3 linked regions of the Homo sapiens genome follow. The protein of the gene in region 1 purifies or fractionates together with the protein of each later gene. This does not show direct contact. Each region holds a gene or a part of one and is shown in the gene's direction. Other genes may lie near its edges.

Region 1 (9,509 bases):
CTCAGACTGCTGATTTGGGAGGGTCTCTGCACACATAGCCCTGCCTTCCTGCCTGCCGCCTGTGAAGTCGACAATGGGTTTGAAGAAAGAATCCAAAATACCAGGAAACTCCTGCCCAGAGGTTGCAGTGGTTGCAGGACCAAAGGAGACAGAGGGCCCAGCAGGGCTGCAGTCCAGGAGCAGAGAACAAAGGCGGCCATGTGGGAGATGGCCTTGCCCACGGATGACCCCTGGACCTGCCCCTCAACCTGGGACTGACAAAATCCCACTCGCTCATTTCCCCTGACTCCAGCCTTGGGAGCACCAACTGGGCTCAACTTTGGGCCATTTTAATGTTTCAGCTCCGGAGGTCAGGACAAAGATGGGACAGACTTCTCCAAAGGTAGGCCTGGTAGACAAGCCTCCTTTGGGGTGATGGAAGTGAAAATACATGACCCCTGAATCCTAGCACTTCAAGAAGCCATCAGCACTAGTGTGGATGTGCCCCAGAATCCTATTTTTCCTCCCTCTAATGGCGACTGCTGGGGCCTGGCTGCTGATGACTGGCAGCCCTACACTTCGCCTTGTGAGGAGGAGCTGAGCTAAGGCTGTAGGCGGGAGAAGGTCAACTCCAAGCCTTAGCAGCTGGGCTAGGGAGGCATGCGACTGAGCCTGGTGCTGTCCCCCTCACTAAGCCCAGCACACCAGAGAAAAATAAGAAAGGCTAGGAAAGAAAGTCAGGGGGAAGGAAATAATTGGAGAGAGAAAAGAGCAAAGAATTAATTGTATAATAAAGAAAGAAGGAAACAAGGAAATGGGAGAAATAAGGAAGACAAGAAAGAGAAAGGATTGGAAAAAGTAGGAAAAAATAAATTACAGGAAGAAAAAAGAAAAAGAAAAACAGAAAGAAGCAAATAAAGAGAAAAGAGAAGGATGAAACAAGAAGGAAAGAAAGAAGAGAAGAAAAAAAAAGAAAAATAAGAAAGGAAAGGAAGGCAAACAGAGATCTTTGAAAAGGAACTTAACCGGTAAGAAAGGTTCGGTGTTTTTCTCCGGAGCAAGCCAGCCTAACCACAGCCCCGACTCTAGCTAGAAACCTGACTTACTGGGGGCAACTTAGAAGCAAACCACTAAAGTGGGGGGCAGGGCCTGCCCCTAAGACATCCTCCCACCCTCCTCCCAAAGCTTCTCTCCGAGGTGTCTTCGGTCTGGTTTCAATTCAGGGGACAAAATTAAATAACTGGCCAGCTTCGGCAGGGCCAGGAAGCAGTCAGACTGGCGCGGGTTATTAGAATTCGGGATTCGGAGATCTTAGACAGCACTTTGGGTAAAAGTGAATATCTGTGGCTGTGTACACATATTTAAGTGCAAGTTAGACACGTGTATAGATGCTGAACTCCGTAGCATCTGTGTGCAAGTGTGTGCAATGTCAAGACGTGAGAGATTCTGCTGGCCGAGCTGCCTGGGGGGCTGTGAGGTCCACAGTAGACCAGAGGCCCTGCTAAGTGTCCTCAGCCTCCTACCTCCCTCTAGTACCTGTTTGAAAATCTTTTTCTTTTCTGGGTCTCTGGGCATTCCGAATTTTGCCTGGAATTTCCCTGCTCCCAATTCAGCTGGGGCAGAGCCTGGTGCTAGTGAAGAAGAAAAGCGAATCTTTTCTTCAAGTTTTGGGAAGGGAAGGATTTATCTCGGCCTCCAAAGCAAGAGGAAAAAACCTGCAATCTCTGGTGTGATTCTGTTTCCTCTTTGCTTAAAAAGATTTCAATACACACACTTTATTTTTATTTTATTATTTAACCCAAAAGGGAAAGACATTCTTCCTTTTTCACTTCATCTTCAGAATTTCCCAGTTGACTTTCTTAACCTGTTGGGGAAACTCCAATTTTTTGCTGGAGAAACCAGGGTGCTTCTGGGGTGTGTTGAGGGCTACAGCCAAGAAAGCAACAAAGGTCCTTTTTTGTTCATTGAGCATATTTTCCTTCTTCTGCTTTCACGTGGGGACCCCTAGCGCCCCAGCCCTTGGGCTGCCCTGTGGAACCCGCTGGATCCTCCCAGAGTATTCACAGAGCTCCTGAACCCTCCTCCTCTGCATTGCTCACAGCCCCACAGACAGAAGGAGGCCCAGCCCCGTCCTTGTTGCCTTTCCAGGATCTGGGTACCCGGGAAGGGAGAAAGGGGCCAGGGCATTGGCCCTGGGTGGGATTTGTCAGGTCGTATGCACAGCTTGAGCCCCACTGTGGCTTGCAGCCCCTGGATTTTCATGTTCCCAAGTTGAGGTAAGAGGGGGGAGCCCCAGACGTAGGCATAGGCATAGGTGTCTCAGCGCCCTCGGAAAGTTGGGGAAATGGATTAATAAAAGTCCATATGTGGGTGATTCTAGCAACACAGGCCTCCCCTGGATCCTAATCCAGTTGCCAAGGGCACAGGCTGAAGGATCTTGGCCCTGTGGGGCAGGGCGGTGGGTGCCTGGCAGTGGCGGCAGGCGGGGTCGCTGTGGCGGCCCGCATGCCTTTGAACGCCAGGCCCGGACAATAGGACCGAAACAGCCTTTGCTCGTGGCCTCGGGAAAGACCGAGCCCAAGGGGGCAGGGCTGGGACCCAGGCCCGCACAAATGCTCCCTTCGCCAGGATAAAACACTCACTTTTTCCTTCCTTTTACCTCCACTGAAGCAGAATCTCAAAGTCTGTGAAAACCCAACAAGTTATTCAGGTCTGCGTCCGAGCGGGCTCTAGTTTAGCAGCACCGGGTTTTCGTTTATCTTGCGTAATTAGAGGCAAACATTTGTCCCACCGGGGGTCCCACTTAGGCTGATGAATTTGATTTCTTTTTTCATTAATCGGCCGTGTTTATCATACTTCTAATTATTTCAACTTTAAACACTATTCTGTCTTGTGAGGAGGTGGGAGTCGAGGCGGGAGGCTCCTCCCTGGAGTATTATTTTCATTAATGATGGCGATAATTCCGAAGCGACTCTGTCCTCTCCCTTGGCTAAGGTGAGAGGTGGGCTTGGAAAGAGGTTGGGTGGTGGGACCCCTGAGGCCGATGGGTCTGCTCCCTGTCTGCTGGTTCCCCAGGCTACGCCTTGGGGCTTGTCTGAAGTTTATCTCCTTCACCCTTTCCTGCCGACTCCTTCACCCCCTCCCAGGCTGGGCTCAAACCCTTTGCGGCTCTTCCCTGGAAACCTTTCTCTGATCCCAGCCTGTCCTGGCTGGCCTGGGCAGAGGCTCGGGTAGCACTGTCCTGGCCCCCAGCTACTAACACCCAGAGAAAAAAAAAAAGAAAAGGCTGAGGTGGCCAAGGGCCACTTGGCCGTGGGGAAAAGGACCCACCAGACTCCAAAGTGGGGGGTAAGGGTAGGGAACTGGGACGCTAAATTCCTGGGAAAAGCACACCAGGCAGGAAAATAAAGGAGACGTGAAAGAGGGGGGAGGGAACCCCCAAAGCCATATAATTCTCAATTGCTTTGGTATTTAATTTCATCGTCCCATAAATGAGGAAATATCAGTTCCCATACTAAATTTTTATCCCTGGCTGATAAATATGACGGGAAATTTTCGTTGGGTCCTCGTAAAAGGGAACGGTTTCGATCAAACTGGTGGGGAAAGACTAATGCAGATAATACAAACAGAGTGGCCATAAAGTCTCGCCCGTTTCCCGCGGGATGGGCGGTGGGACAAATGGCTCCCTGGATTGACTGCTGCCCGGACTGTCCCAAGTCTGGGGCCTAAACAGCCTAACCTTGCCCTGGATAACCCCCATGCTGAGGCCACGGTGACCCTGCATATGAAAACACAAAACCATTTCAAATCTCCCCTGGCCGGTCCTGCAAGCAAATCATACACTCCACATTTCCTTCCAGTTTTCCGGAGGTTCAGGAACCCCTGCGTCTTCTCTCTCCACCCCTGGATGGGGAAATTCGGCGGATTTCTTTCTGCGGTCTTCTAGCCGCAGCGGGCTTGGGCCTCCTTAGAAACGGTCTAGCCTCCTCACTCCTCCACTCCAGGGCGCTGGGCTCCAGTCCTTTCCCCGCCAAACTCCAGCCCTTCGGAAAGTCTGAACCCTAGGCTCTGTCCAAGGAAAAATGTGGGGCGACAGGAAAGACAAGTTGTTCTCCAGATTCCGTTTCCTGAGGAAGGGGTGGAGAGTTTAGTTCGCTTTGGAAGAAGGCGATGGAGAAACGGAAATAACTGTTTGAAACATACGGTTCCCCTTATTTCTTCCTTTTATTTAAAAACAACCACAAAAATAGACTGGTCTGTCTTCTTTCAAACATGCTCCCAGCCCGTGCGCTCTGTAAAGGACGCTTCTCTGGGTCGGGTTTTGTTGCGTCTTGTGTGCTGGTTTCCCGTGTGATACGTGACTCCTCCAAACTGACCGAGGCTCCGCAGGTTCCCTCTTTCTTTCCCGGAATATTCCCTGTTTTAGCGGGGGCAAGGTCAAGCGGAAAGCGAGGACCGCCAGGGCCTGAAGTAAAGCAGCAGAACCGGCTCCAAGGCCAAAGCCTTGTGGGCCCCTGAGATGGTGACCCAGGAGCCGCCCACCCTGCCAGGCCCAGGCCACAGCTCTCGGGTCGGGGATCGGGTGCCTCTGGTCTCTGGCTTCCTCTTTCCCCTACCCCGCGTCCATTCGGAACCTCCTTTTCCGAGCAGCCATGAAGTGACCGTGACCCCCTCCCTGGCCCACCCTAGAGGCTGGAGATTCCCAGTCAACCCCCACAGGAAACTTGCAACTCCAGCGCCGCGGCCCCCAAGCTTCCAGCCCCGAGGGCCAAGCCCGGGGAAAAGAGGAGGCGGGAGAGCAGAAACTTTAGTCCTGTTTGGTATTCCTTAACTTTTTTTCCCCTTTCTCTGCTCATCAGATCCCCCCAAACCCCCCCCCCCACAAACCTCACCCCACTCCCATCCCCAAGGTAAGAAGTGGGAGTCGGGTCCGGGGATATGGAAAGGGGAGATGAAGAGTGGGGAGAAGTACCTGATTCGTGTCTCGACCTTTTAATTTGAATTTGACTGTTTTGAGCCCCGGGTTGCCTCGCTCTCTCCCTCTCTCCCGCATTTCCCCCCTCTCCGCCCCCTTCTCCCCAGGAGTTACAGGCTGGTTACTGGATAAACAAACCCCACTCTTCCTAGAACCCCCACCCCCACCCCCACCCCCCTCCACCCCTCTACCTCCCCTGCCGCCCGGGGGGCGCTTCCTTTGTTCGCGGGGAAGGGCTCCGGTGCCCCTACCCCGAGGCAGCTGCTAGATGGCGCTGTTACTCCACTCTGCGCGCTCCGCCTGCCGACAACTTGACCCCGCTGACGTCACGGCCGTCTGAATCATCAAGGCCATTTTCAAATCCCATTGGTCTAGCCGTCACATGGTGAGAACCGAATGCGCGGATAATTACGGAGCTGATATTTCCCCCCCTCCCCTTCTTTTTCCTCCCTCCCCTCCAACCGCGCCCCCCCTCCCGGATGGGGAAAAAAAAAGATGTCAGCTCCTCCGCTGTAGTATTGCTCCTTAAAAACCCCTCTCTCTGAAAATGACATGCCCTCGCAATGTAACTCCGAACTCGTACGCGGAGCCCTTGGCTGCGCCCGGCGGAGGAGAGCGCTATAGCCGGAGCGCAGGCATGTATATGCAGTCTGGGAGTGACTTCAATTGCGGGGTGATGAGGGGCTGCGGGCTCGCGCCCTCGCTCTCCAAGAGGGACGAGGGCAGCAGCCCCAGCCTCGCCCTCAACACCTATCCGTCCTACCTCTCGCAGCTGGACTCCTGGGGCGACCCCAAAGCCGCCTATCGCCTGGAACAACCTGTTGGCAGGCCGCTGTCCTCCTGCTCCTACCCACCTAGTGTCAAGGAGGAGAATGTCTGCTGCATGTACAGCGCAGAGAAGCGGGCGAAAAGTGGCCCCGAGGCAGCTCTCTACTCCCACCCCTTGCCGGAGTCCTGCCTTGGGGAGCACGAGGTACCCGTGCCCAGCTACTACCGCGCCAGCCCGAGCTACTCCGCGCTGGACAAGACGCCCCACTGTTCTGGGGCCAACGACTTCGAAGCCCCTTTCGAGCAGCGGGCCAGTCTCAACCCGCGCGCCGAACATCTGGAATCGCCTCAGCTGGGGGGCAAAGTGAGTTTCCCTGAGACCCCCAAGTCCGACAGCCAGACCCCCAGCCCCAATGAAATCAAGACGGAGCAGAGCCTGGCGGGCCCTAAAGGGAGCCCCTCGGAGAGCGAAAAGGAGAGGGCCAAAGCTGCCGACTCCAGCCCAGACACCTCGGATAACGAAGCGAAAGGTAAGGCCGCCTGGGCCGCGGGCGCCACTGGGACGTTCCGGCACTTGGTCTTCGCGGCCGGGGAGGGGGGCAGGGGAGAGGGTTGGGCCCAGGAGGCCCCAGACCATTTCGGGAATGCGACCCTGGCTTTCGACTAGCGTCCGCTGAGCTCCAGGCTGGTGGCGCGTCACTTAGCTGGGGAAGGTAAGCGGCGACGTGGAGGTGTCGGCCCTGCCCCGGCCATGGGTGCTAAGGCGGGGGCGGTGCGCACCGCGGGCCGCCTGCAGGCGCAGTGTGCTGCACCGGACGGGTGGCTGCTCCCAGGCGCGTGCTGGCTGTGGTTTGCTTTCTCAATGCTGGTGTCCTGGGGAGCTGACGTCCCCCAGCTCAGGTCAGGGGCTTGCAAAAAGCCTAAAATGGCGATCTTGGGCCAGGGACTAGGGAAGGCTGGGGAGATGGGGGGAGTTCTCTTTACTGCGTTTTCCCAGTTGAAAATTGTTTCCTGCGAAACGCGATTTGTTGTTTGTGGGTCTGATTTGTGCGTGCGGCTTGGGCTCCTGCGGCTTTTGGCTCGGCCGGGGGCCTTGGGCAGCGAGGCTGGAGCCGGAAGAGGTGGAGGTGAAGGGCTGCCCGCCACGTCCCTCCCTCCTCCAGATGCCTGGCTTGGATGGCGTTGGAACAGGGCATTTGGAATGTTGTAAGTTTTCTGTTTCCTCTTTTAATTTTTTCTTTTCCATTTTTTTCTAGTTAAATTATCTTTTTTCATTGGTTTCCAAAAGCAGCTTACAAATGAGTGGTTGGGAAATTTCTGTGTGCGTGGCAAGAGGTTTTCTCCTGAAAGGGAATGTGGCTTTGGTTGGATTTCACTGTAATTTTGGTTGAGAGAAAGCCCAGCCAGAGTTCAAGCTCAGGGTTCAAGATTCATTTCTGCTGTAGGAGCTGGGGGCCTTCGGGATCTTTCTCTGATACTTGGGGAAAGAATGTGGAGGAAACGGGAGCAGGGGAGGAAAAGCTGAGGGGAACGACTTTTCCTGAAAAGTTGTAGCAAGAGCCTCAGAAAAAGGCCCAACCAACGGGGAAGAATAAACCTGCTCCCCACAACACCGGCTACTGGTGACAGTATATAAGGGGCTCATTGGGTGTAGAGGAAGATGAAATACTGAGAGCGGAGCAGGCTGGGGGCGGCCTGGATCTCCTGGTGCTTTGTATATGGATGCGACGCACACGCATGCCTACGGGCGACCTGTGCCACACTCACGCACATCCATATTGCATGATCCTTGCACACTCACGCATGCCCGCTCACACATGCACAGGCACTCTTTTGGCGGGCAAGGGCAGAGCCTCATCCCCTTGGGTCTGCAAAGGTGGTCTTGGTAAATCATCCCCATAGAGACACTGACTGGAAGATGAGCGCTGGTGTGTTCATGAGGATAAGGGGGAGAGTGAGGCGCCTACAGCCTCAAAGCCTTTCGTTTGGCACGTGTGCAGTGTGAAGGTTTAATCTTATACCCTCTCTACAGACCCTGAGCTTGGTTAGGGAGCAGATTTGGGGCAGGAAAACCTGCATTCTAGCCCCCACCAAAAGCAAAGTCAAGGTTAACAAGTTCACCTCTTAACTCGACCTGCACCCATTCCCATAGGCTCTCCCTTTCCTCTAGCTGTCCCCACAGCAACCTAATCCCTCCCACCCCAAGGAATCCCTCTTACCCTGTACCCTCTCTGTGCCCTTCTTTCCTCTCCTCCTGTTTTGATGTCTCCACCAGGCCAGAGGCAAGAGAGCTTTTGATTAAACTTCCCCATTTATAATTTGTCTTGTCCCCCCACCCCACCAAACCTAACAACTCCAGTAAGAAAATAAACAGGACGTAGTTAGATGTGGAGAGCTTGTAAACAATCTGGCAAGAAGCTGCAGGTGCAGAGACAGGAGAGAAAATTCGGGACATTCAGATTTTTTTAGACTGCAACCTCAAGTTTGCCTTTTTTGTGTGTTTTCTGGTTCCTCTTAGGCCCCCGCCTCACCCCGCCCCCAACAAGATAAGATCCAGGAACCTGGCAGCCTCATTGGAATAGGGAGGAGAGAGAGCTCAGAGCCATCAGCAGAGTCCTTTGCTGGGTGTCCTCTCAGGTCTTTGGACTCTGTTTTTTGCCCTTAAAAAGATGGCCAGGTTCCCTTCTGCTACTTGAGAAGCAAGGCTGGTCCATTTCAGCAAGAATGTGTGTCAGGGATAGAGGCTGTCAATAAGCTCATGGGAAATACACAGTATTCTATAGTATCTCCTTACAAAAAAAGACTCATGTACATATCTATGTGTGTGTACTTATGTGTATAGGTGTGTGTATCTCTGCAGGTATACATGTGTACTTGCAGGCATACACATCTACGTATGCACAGACTGGGCAGGGGGTTTCTAGGAGGCTGCATTTCCTCAGGATATGTCTCTCCCTTGACCTTAGGTCCTTTGGCCAGGAAAGTTGTTTGAGGACCCCTTAGGTTGCCCCAGCTCTGTTGCCCCTGACCTCTGCTGCTCTTACAAGCTCCCCTCAGCTGCACATACCTGGGAGAAATGATTAAGAGAGGAAGAGATGGCAATGGGAGACCTAAGGGAGCAGAGTCACTCTGTGGCAGCTCAGGTTGGGGTAAGAGCTGGGGGCCCAGGACAGGGACCACTGCAGTGGCCTCTGGCCACAGATCCTGGAACAAAGTCCCTCCACTGAGTTGAAACAGGTCAAAGCTCTCTGGGAATTTCTCTGGTCTGTGGGTGGACTCTGCTCTGGTCTGGGGCCTGGAAAATGCTTTTCCATCTGGTTGGATTTTTCCAGAGCTGGAATGGAACAGAGAGAAGGGGGGATCTGGCAAGGTTTAGGGAATCTGCCAGGGTCAGCCAGCTGGGGGAAAGCCAGGGTACTCAGGATCTTTTAGATTAAGGTGGACTTGGGTAATTTAAATTTAATAAATGCTTGGAGGCAAGAACTTCCTCCCTTTATCTCCCTAAGTCTAAACCCCAAAGAAATTGTAAGAACCTTGAGCCTAAGAGGAGCCCACCGCCAGGCCCCTGGGGCAAGAGCAGCTCCCCTGTGCTCCCTCAGCCACCCCACAGCAGGCTGGCAAAGGCTGCAGCGCTGAGAGGGTTTTCGACTTCGAGGGATACTTATGTAAATAATGTTATTTTTAACAGAGGAGATAAAGGCAGAAAACACCACAGGAAATTGGCTGACAGCAAAGAGCGGAAGGAAGAAGAGGTGCCCCTATACTAAACACCAGACGCTGGAATTGG
Region 2 (3,803 bases), on another chromosome or scaffold:
GTGGTGCGATCACGGCTCACTGCAGCCTCCAACTCCTAGGCTTAAGCGATCCTCCCACCTCAGCCTCCCAAATAGCTGGGACAGGACCACAGGCATGCACCATCATGCCCAGCTAAGTTTTTGATTTTTTGTAGAGATGAGATCTCACTATGTTGCCCAGGCTGGTCTCAAGCTCCTGGACTCAAGTAGTCCTCCCACCTCAGCCTCCCAAAGTGCTGGATCATAGGCATGAGTGACTGTGTCCAGCCAGGATCTTTTCAAGACCCTTCACAGACAGCTCCAATGAGACATTCACTCAGCCCATGGGAAAAGTCCCCAAAGCCTGGAACTGCAGTGTGCTCAGACACTGCCTTATTTCCCTACCCTGCCATGGTGGGCACCTCCAACAAGCCTCTCACCACCAGAATTCTCGAGGCAAGGAGTGGGCACCTGTGTCTCCCTTCTTCACAGCAAACTCCTTAACTCGAGTGTGCAGGTGTCCCAGGTACTCTTCTGCTCTCTGCTCCCTGAGCAATACATGGAGGGCTGTAGGCCCAGCCAGGAGGTGCCTTCTCCCTCCTGCAGGAGGCCCGGACTTCTCAGGGCTCTCATGGAACTCACAGGGATGGGGTTAGAGAGGCACCCACTTTTTCCCTCTCCAGGATGATAGGGTATCATGATGCTTCCTGCCCCCGCACCTTCCCCTCAGAGGCCTTTTCACCAAAGGTGCACCAGATTTCCAGTCGCCTCGTGTGTAAGCTGCAGGTAGGATGTCCGACCCCCTTTTAGCCAGTCCAGGGGGATATAATGAGCCTTTACCTGGGAAATGTGAGGACACCTGTCACTCACTGTCTTTACATTTGGGGGCCTCAGCTGAAACTGCAAGGCTTCAGAAAACCCCTGAGATTCTCTAAGTCTCCTATTCTAAGATTATTCCAAGTCTTGGAGCATTTCTACCCTCAGCCTGGTGGTGGTGGCCTAGCATCCTTCAGGGAAACTTTCTGGAGGGGATTTTTGGATTTCTAGGTCAACTGGAGTCAAGAGGGAAATAGGACCAGTGACCCAGAGCTTACAAACTAGAGTGTGTACCTAAAGACATAATTAGGAAGGTAAGGCTGTTTTTACAGAAGCACATGAACCCTATCGATCAAATAGCTCATGGCTAGTTTTTGATCCACAGACGACTTCTGGATTGCTCTGGCATTGGTCCCCTCTACTGGGGACAGGCTGATACCCTGATGGACAAAAGAAGTCTTGGGGTTGGGCAGAGGGCCTGGGAAAGGAAGGGCCAGTCTGGTCCGAGTCCTCCCTTTCTAACTGCAGAAGGCGCAGCCCCCAGCCCCACCCATGTGGCTGAGCTGGCAACGATGGAGGTGGAGTCTGCAAGGCTGGACCAGGAACCCTGGGAGCCAGGAGGGCAGGAGGAGGAAGAGGATGGGGAAGGAGGGCCCACCCCTGCCTACCTAAGCCAGGCCACAGAGCTCATCACCCAGGCCCTGCGGGATGAGAAGGCAGGCGCTTACGCTGCTGCACTCCAGGGCTATCGAGACGGCGTGCACGTCTTGCTTCAGGGAGTCCCCAGTGAGTAGGGACTGAGGGTGGAGGGTCAGGCCTGGGTCCCAGGTGGGGCAGTGATGAAGGGAGCAAAAAAACAAGCAAATCACGGATCAGGAGCCCTTTTACTCCTCACTGACCAGCTGTGTAACCTGGGCAGATTTTTGTTTCTGTTTTTTTGTTGTTGTTGTTTTTAACCTCTTGTGGCCTCAGTTTTCTTCTTCCTCTTTTTTTTTTTTTTTTTTTGAGACAGAGTCTTGCTCTTGTTGCAGGCTGGAGTGCACAATCTCGGCTCACTGCAACCTCCGCCCCCCAGGTTCAAGTGATTCTACTGCCTCAGCCTCCCGACTAGCTGGGATTACAGGCGCCCACCACCATGCCTGGCTAATTTTTGAATTTTTATTTTTTATTTATTTTTATTTATTTATTTTTATTTTTTGAGACAGAGTCTCGCTCTGTCGCCCAGGCTGGAGTGCAGTGGCACAATCTTGGCTCACTGCAACCTCCACCTCCCAGGTTCAAGCCATTCTCCTGCCTCAGCCTCCTGAGTAGCTGGGATTACAGGCACGTGCCACCACGCCCAGCGAATTTTTGTAGTTTTAGTAGAGATGGGCTTTCACCATGTTGGTCAGGCTGGTCTCGAACCCCTGACCTCGTGATCCACCCACCTCGGCCTCCCAAAGTGCTGGGATTACAGGCGTGAGCCACCGCGCCCAGCATGGCCTCAGTTTTCTTATTTGTAGACTGAGGAGAATGGATGCTGGGCCCCAGAGAGGAGGGAAAAGCACATGGTGATGCTCTGCGAATTGTAAAGGACCCGACCAGGGGTTCTGACCAGGCCAGTGGTGCCCAGGTGCCTCAGCTGAGCATTCTCTCTCCACAGGTGACCCGTTGCCTGCCCGCCAGGAAGGTGTGAAGAAGAAGGCAGCTGAGTACCTGAAGCGGGCAGAGGAGATCCTGCGCCTGCACCTGTCTCAACTCCCACCCTAACAGGGAGTGGGCCATTCCCTGGGACTCTCGCTCCTGCACTGCCAGCCCCTTCTCCTCTCCCCAGGGCCTGGCCCTACCTCCTGGTCTTGTAATTACAGGAGCCATTTCTGTAGGTAACTGGACCAAGAATGAGAAAAATAATGAATTCTTAGCTCCCTGATTACACCTGCCACCTTGGAATCAAGGACTCACACTTCTGACCCTGCCTGTCTTTTTGGGGTTTTTTTGAGTTGGAGTCTCGCTGTGTCGCCCAGACTGGAGTGCAGTGGTGGGATCGCGGCTCACTGCAACCTCCACCTCCCAGGTTCAAGCAGTTCTCCTGTCTCAGCCTCCCCAGTAGCTGAGATTGCAGGCACATGCCACCACGCCCAGCTAATATTTTGTATTTTCAGTAGGGACGGGGTTACACCATGTTGGCCAGGCTGGTCTCGAACTCCTGACCTCAAGTGATCCACCCGCCTCAGTCTCCCAAAGTGCTGAGATTACAGGCATGAGTCACTACGCCCGGCCCATGTCTGTCTGTCTTGATGTGTGAGCAGCAGCTGTGGTCATTAAACCATTAGTTTACCCCTCTAGAACTGGGGTCTGCAAACTCCCACCTGCAGCCAAATCTGGCCCACCTCCTTTTTAATGTAAGGGCTGTGAGAGTGGTTTTTACTTTTTTTAATGATTAAAAAAATCAAAATAATATTCTGTGACAATGACAGGTGAAATTTATATGTGACAAGTGAAAATTATATGAAATTTAAGAGTCCATAAATAAAATTTGTTGGAACACAACCAGGCTAATTCATTTAGTATTGTGATAGCTGCTTTCGCGCTACACTGGCAGTTGAAACAGTTGCAGAGTTGAGTCTTTGCCGCCTGCAAATCCCAAAACATTTACAACCTGGCCCTTTGCAGAAAACATTTGCTGGCCCCTGAGCTAGAAAATAGGGAGCATAGTCTCAGGGAAATAGAGGACAAGCCGATGGAGCCGGTTTATTGGGTGGAAGGGACGAAGGAGAGGAACCCAAAGCCCGGGTACTTGTCTCAGAGGCCCCAAAGCCAAATCCTGATTGCTCAGCGGGCTGGAAGGCGTGGCCTCAGCCCCGCCCCGCCCCGCCTCACCACAAAGCGGTTGGTTGCGGCAGGGACTACACCGGTGTATCATGGGAGCGGCCCGGGCTACACGTTAAAAACACTAAGGGGAGCGCGCGAAGCTGAACTTGGCGCTCGATGGGGGCCGTTAGCCGCCCTAGAGCGCGCGGAGCCGCAGAGGCGTAGCTGGACTACAACGC
Region 3 (5,296 bases), on another chromosome or scaffold:
CTGGAGTTCATGAAAAGCGCGCCTCTGACTTGGAAGGACTATACTCTGTGAGTTACGTATCAAGTCCCTGTAAAAAGAATGATTTCCTTCCTGTGTAAGGAAAATGTTAAACTACACAAAACTCCACTCTGATTCAGGGAGTAAGGTGGACGTCCCGGCATGGTGTGAATGATTAAGGACCACATGCAGCGATGGGATCAGGCGTCCGCGCTGGCCAGAGTGCTGCTCGCTCATGTGCAGACCCTTACTGCGGTGAGGCCTGCGTGAGCCTGTGCTGTGCCTGGTGTCAGGGGACAGGCTCCGAGTCAGTCACAGTGTGCAGTCCTGCTGTGGGGACAGAGTGCAGCCATTGTTGGGTTAGTACAGTGGCGGGGATGTGCCTGCCGGCGTGATGATCAGGCAGGTCTTGACACAGCACAGACCTGAGCTGTGGGACTGGCCAGGAGAGCCAGGCTGCAGCTCAGGTGTAGGGCGTCTTGCAGTGAATTGCACTTGGAGATCTTCCACCTCTTGTGGAGGGGAGACGGCAGGCGGAGCCGGGGCTAGGCATTCCTGAGACAGGTGGAGGTGACAGCTTTGCTTGGGACAGAACTGCCAGACAGGATTGCCCATGTATCTGCCAGCCCTGGCCCCAGCAGGAGCCAGTTGGATGACTCATGGCTTCCACCTGCAGTTCACTTCACTGAAGAAGGCTGCCGGCCCAGGCCACGTGGTAAATCCCATGAGGTTCTCTCTGCCTGTGTGCCCCACTGCAGGGGAGGGAGGCAGTGAGTTTGCCATCTGCTGTGTGACATTGTGAGGGTGCGCAGAGCAGCTGGGGGTAGCCCTGATGCAGTTACTGCATTAGATGGACACTGTGAAGACGTGCAGCTATGTCATGGGCTCAGCAAGAAGGGCCCCTGGCGTCACACAGGGCACCCAGCCGCATCCTGGGCCTAGGGTCAGGGGCTCCTACAGCTGGAACCTGCACCTTCTGGGGCACAAGGTGCCTTCTTTGTGGCCACCACACCCCATGTCCAGCCCAGGCCTGGACAATGATGAGATGTGCTCAGGTGCTTGGTCAGGGCTGGCTTTGGTGGTTGGAGAATCGTATCTTCCTAGTGAGTTACACCATTGCTGGGCCTGCTCTGGGCTGCCCTCCCAGCATCTGCCTTCATGATGAGGCGTGACATGTGGGCTGTAACTTGTTGCCCAGCCTCATGGAGAAACTGTCTTTCTGTAGGTTGGTTCCTGTATACCTTGGGCCAGAGAGCAAACATAGGTGGCCTGAGAGAGCCCTGGTACGTGGTGGAGAAGGACAGCGTCAAGGGTGACGTGTTTGTGGTGAGTGGGCCGGCCTCTGAGACAGCACTGGGGCTGGTTCTGGCAGGGCCAGCAGTGCTTCCAGACCAGGGCTTGAGAAGGCCTCCAGCAGCCGTGGCTTCCTGGAGGCTGTGACTAACTCTGTTCCTGTCCTTGGTCCCCTGCCTTTCCTGGGACTGGCCATGGTGGCAGGAGAGTTTTAAGGTATTCATTAGGCTGAGTTGTATGCTGGTCTCTTAATCATCCCTGAACCCCGATACACAGATACAGTTTCTCCAATTTTATGAAAGAGGACAGCGACGCCCAGAGCTTGGGTGGCTCATCCGGTGGAGAGGGCATGGCCTCAGTGCCAAGGATGGTGCCCACCATGGTAGGATCCAGTGAGTTGTTGTCAGGCAGGTGCAGATGGCCAAGCCAGGATCAAACCAAGCCTTCCACCACAGTGGGGACCTTACCACTGTGACCCTGGCCTCAAAGCAGGGCCGCTCAGTGGCGGCAAGCTCACCCCACCTTCAGGGGACCTTGCCAGTGTCTAGAGGCATTTTTGGTTGTCACAGCTTGGGTGGAAAAGCAAGGACGCGGGTGCTGCTGCATCTGTGGGTCAGGCCGGGGATGCTGCTTGCCGTGTTCAGCACAGCCTCTTCCCTGAGTGACCCGGCCTCCACCTTGGCGCGTGGAGCTGAGAAGGCCCACTCTCAGCACCCTGGCTGCCGGCTCATGTTCTGGCACGAATGCTGGGGCGCCTTCTCTTAGACGGAGGCGGGGGCCAGCAGGCCCCACCCACCGATTCCAGGACATCTCCTTACTAGGAAGACCTGTGGGGAGAAAAGCCTGGCTGCGAATGAATTAAATGATCTAGATTTCAGTTTGCTGTGAGAAGACCAGAAGGGTTAACCAACGGCCTCCTGTCCCTGGACGGGTCTTGGTGCCTGCTTAGAACCCAAAGCCCTTAACTTCATGCTCCTCGTCCTGCTTCAGGGGCGGGGCTTGGCACAATCCCAGGAGGTGCCAGGTCTCAATGGCCCGAGGCCATGGGTGGGTGACAGGGAGCAGGGGCCTCAGAACCAACCTAGGGTATCTGGGGCCCCCCAGACCAGGGCCAGTCCTGGGGCACCTGTGGGAAGCCAGCAGCTACCAGTCCCTCCTTTCTCCTCAGCCATTTGGTGTGTGGAGGAATTCCTGGGGTGGCCTTGAGAGAAGAGCCCGTGGTGTGGCTGGCCCCTGTCCCTGCGAATAGAAAAACCAGTCCTCGAGGGGGGCCGTGCTGCTGCCCCACAGGTGGTTGCAGGTAGAGGGCCTGAGTCAGACTTGAACCTGCAGCATTCACTGTCATGGGCTCGGATCTCACCCCTGCCTCTTGCCCACTCTGACATGGTACTTCCTTCCTGGGCCTTAGTCTCCTCATCTGTAAAATGGGGATTCAAAGGCCCGGCGGGTGATGAGATGAATTTCTGTGGGTAGAACACTTCGAGCGGTGCCAGCACCGTTACCTGTGTGTGTGTGTGCTGGTAGGACAGTTGTTCCCAGGGACCACACTGAGGCCGGCCTTGGGGCCAGGTGCCCCTCGGCGTCCCCACCTTCACATTCCATTCTGCAGGCCCCCCGGACAGACCACCCAGCCCTGTACAGGGACCTGCTGAGGACCAGCCGCGTGCACTGGATTGCGGAGGAGCCTCCCGCAGCACTGGTCCGGGACAAGATGATGGAGTGCCACTTCCGATTCCGCCACCAGATGGCACTAGGTGACTGACGGGAGGGCTCCTGAGGACGGGCCCCTTGAAGCTGAGCTTCCTGAGGCCAGATTTGGGCCAGGGATGGGAGACCCTGGGGTAGGAAAGTCCCGTTGTGGAGATCATTTGGAGATTACCTAAAGTATTTAGAACTCCCGTGTCCTGTGCCTGCCCTGAGCGAGGCCTGGGGGTGCTGGGAGCAGATGCAGGCAGGCCCCGGCGTGTTGGGCTGAAGCAAGTGTGTACACTGCCCCGCAGTGTCCTGCTGCGTCCAGGGCCCAGGCTGGTGCCCTGCCCTTCCCCTCTAAGCAGGGGTTTTTGACCCCGTGGGCTGGTGCTCCTTTCTCCCTGGGGGCCTGAGGTCGACCAGGAAAGGCCTGTGCCCCCTCCAAGGGCCCCTCTCTTCTACCCAGTGCCCTGTGTGCTGACCCTCAATCAAGATGGCACCGTGTGGGTGACAGCTGTGCAGGCTGTGCGTGCCCTTGCCACAGGACAGGTGCGTGGGGTGTGGGGGTGAGCCCGGGGAGGACTGTACTGCTCTGCACCCTGCCAGGGCACCCGGGTTACAGAGGAAGGGGCTGAGGCCCAGGAGTAGGGTGTGCTCGGGTCACACAGCTGGTGAGGGCAGAGTGCCACCAGCCCTGCCCTGGGGGCTCCTCCCACAGTGACAACTGTGAGAGGATTTCCACTCTGGTGTCACCAACCAGCCAGTTCCTGCTCGGGCCCTGAGAGGCTCAGCTGCTGCCCGGGCCCCAGAAGCGAGGACAGAAAATGGAAGGGGCATGAGGACAGTGCTCAAAGAGGCAGAGGGTCGGGGCCCCTGTGGGCCGAGTGTGCAGGAGCTCCCAGGGTGGGCGCCTGGTGGGTGTAGGCCTGAGGAATCTCCAGGGGCAGGTGGTGGGAGGGAACCTGGGGTGAGGGAAGCGGAAGCATCCTCTGGCTGCCACCATGCTCCTTCCTGTCACAGCTCCACATTCCCAAGGGGTGCAGAGACCTGCCAGTCCCTTGGAGTCCCAGGAGAGGCCCCTGTGACTGTCCCACTCAGGGAGAGGTACCCTGAAGACCCTCCCTAGTGAAGCCACTGGGTGCCCCAGGCCTCTCCTCTCCTGTTCAGCAGCAGCAGCAGCAGCAAAACCCTGCTCCCCTGGGAGCTCAGTGCCTGGTGCTCCGAGCACAGGCCAGGCCCCATAGGGGAGCACTCTGCCCCTGCCTGCCCTCGGCTGGCTCCCTGTGGCACCCCTGATGCCAGGGTCTCTCCCCTACAGTTTGCTGTGTTCTACAAGGGGGACGAGTGCCTGGGCAGCGGGAAGATCCTGCGGCTGGGGCCGTCTGCCTACACGCTCCAGAAGGGCCAGCGCAGAGCTGGGATGGCCACTGAGAGCCCCAGTGACAGCCCAGAAGATGGTCCAGGCCTGAGTCCCTTGCTCTGACAGAGATGGATCTGCTAGAAGGAACCTGGAGAGCAGGACCCATGGCTGGGCGGCTGGTGAGCAGTCCAGGTGCCCAAGGGCCAGCTTGCTGCTGCCCAAAGCAGAGGAAGCCGGGCTGGCTGAGGGTCCGAAAAGCCTGCAGGGGCCCGGCGAGCCCCAGGAAGAGCCTCAGCTCCAGGCTGGGGCTCTGGCTGCTGGAGCATCTGCTGGCTGGTGGGGTGGCCCGAGTTCCCCTTCACCGCCCCCAGGGAGGGTTTCCCACCTCAGAGTACACCGAGGGGACCTGCAGAGGGGGCTGTCGGGACAGCGTGGAATAAACATTATTTCAAGGACACATAGTCTGATCGCTGCTTCCACTGGGGCCCAGGGGGCTCCACATCACTGACTCCCTGGCGTGGAAAGGCAGGTGGACTGCAGACGCAGCCATGGCAACCTGCGTACCTCTCCCTGAGGTCCCAGCTGCTCCATCCTCTGCCCCCGTATCCCTGCTCCTGGACTCCAGAGTAGGTGCCTGCGATGCTGACCTGTGTCCTTGGCTCTCTTCCTCTTGCTGGGCTTGAGTCCTTCGTAGCGTGTTGTTGGTGCCTCAAGACAGGTTCCTGCGGGGACCAGAGGTGCATTCCCCTTCTCTGGGTGGGAAGGTTCCAGAGGCAGCCAGGTGGTGCGCAGAGGGCCTTGCCCAGATGCCCTGAGTTCTTGCTGGTGCGTCAGGGTGGGGGCTGCCATGGGGCCCACTGTCCATCCTGACCCCTCCTCCCATCTCCCCACTGGGTGTCCCCTGACCTGGGGCACCCTTCCTTCTAGCCTAGGCCCCCACGCAGCAGGGAGTGTCCT

Evidence for each region. Proteins that work in one complex are often made in the same cells at the same time.
Region 2: the proteins of HOXC10 (region 1) and SNX15 purify together in Homo sapiens (affinity purification with mass spectrometry; 2 studies listed by BioGRID and IntAct, with this or other methods). This does not show direct contact.
Region 3: the proteins of HOXC10 (region 1) and TRMU purify together in Homo sapiens (affinity purification with mass spectrometry; 2 studies listed by BioGRID and IntAct, with this or other methods). This does not show direct contact.

The regions. Positions count from the first base shown.
Region 1 is NC_000012.12:53,979,759-53,989,267, forward strand, and holds the start of HOXC10 (homeobox protein Hox-C10), read left to right. Parts: upstream 1-5,387; 5' UTR 5,388-5,501; coding exon 5,502-6,252; intron 6,253-9,410; coding exon 9,411-9,509. UniProt on the Homo sapiens protein: Sequence-specific transcription factor which is part of a developmental regulatory system that provides cells with specific positional identities on the anterior-posterior axis.
Region 2 is NC_000011.10:65,037,270-65,041,072, forward strand, and holds the end of SNX15 (sorting nexin-15), read left to right. Parts: intron 1-1,302; coding exon 1,303-1,560; intron 1,561-2,416; coding exon 2,417-2,523; 3' UTR 2,524-3,303; downstream 3,304-3,803. UniProt on the Homo sapiens protein: May be involved in several stages of intracellular trafficking. Overexpression of SNX15 disrupts the normal trafficking of proteins from the plasma membrane to recycling endosomes or the TGN.
Region 3 is NC_000022.11:46,352,545-46,357,840, forward strand, and holds the end of TRMU (mitochondrial tRNA-specific 2-thiouridylase 1), read left to right. Parts: intron 1-1,222; coding exon 1,223-1,323; intron 1,324-2,899; coding exon 2,900-3,044; intron 3,045-3,445; coding exon 3,446-3,528; intron 3,529-4,297; coding exon 4,298-4,462; 3' UTR 4,463-4,796; downstream 4,797-5,296. UniProt on the Homo sapiens protein: Catalyzes the 2-thiolation of uridine at the wobble position (U34) of mitochondrial tRNA(Lys), tRNA(Glu) and tRNA(Gln).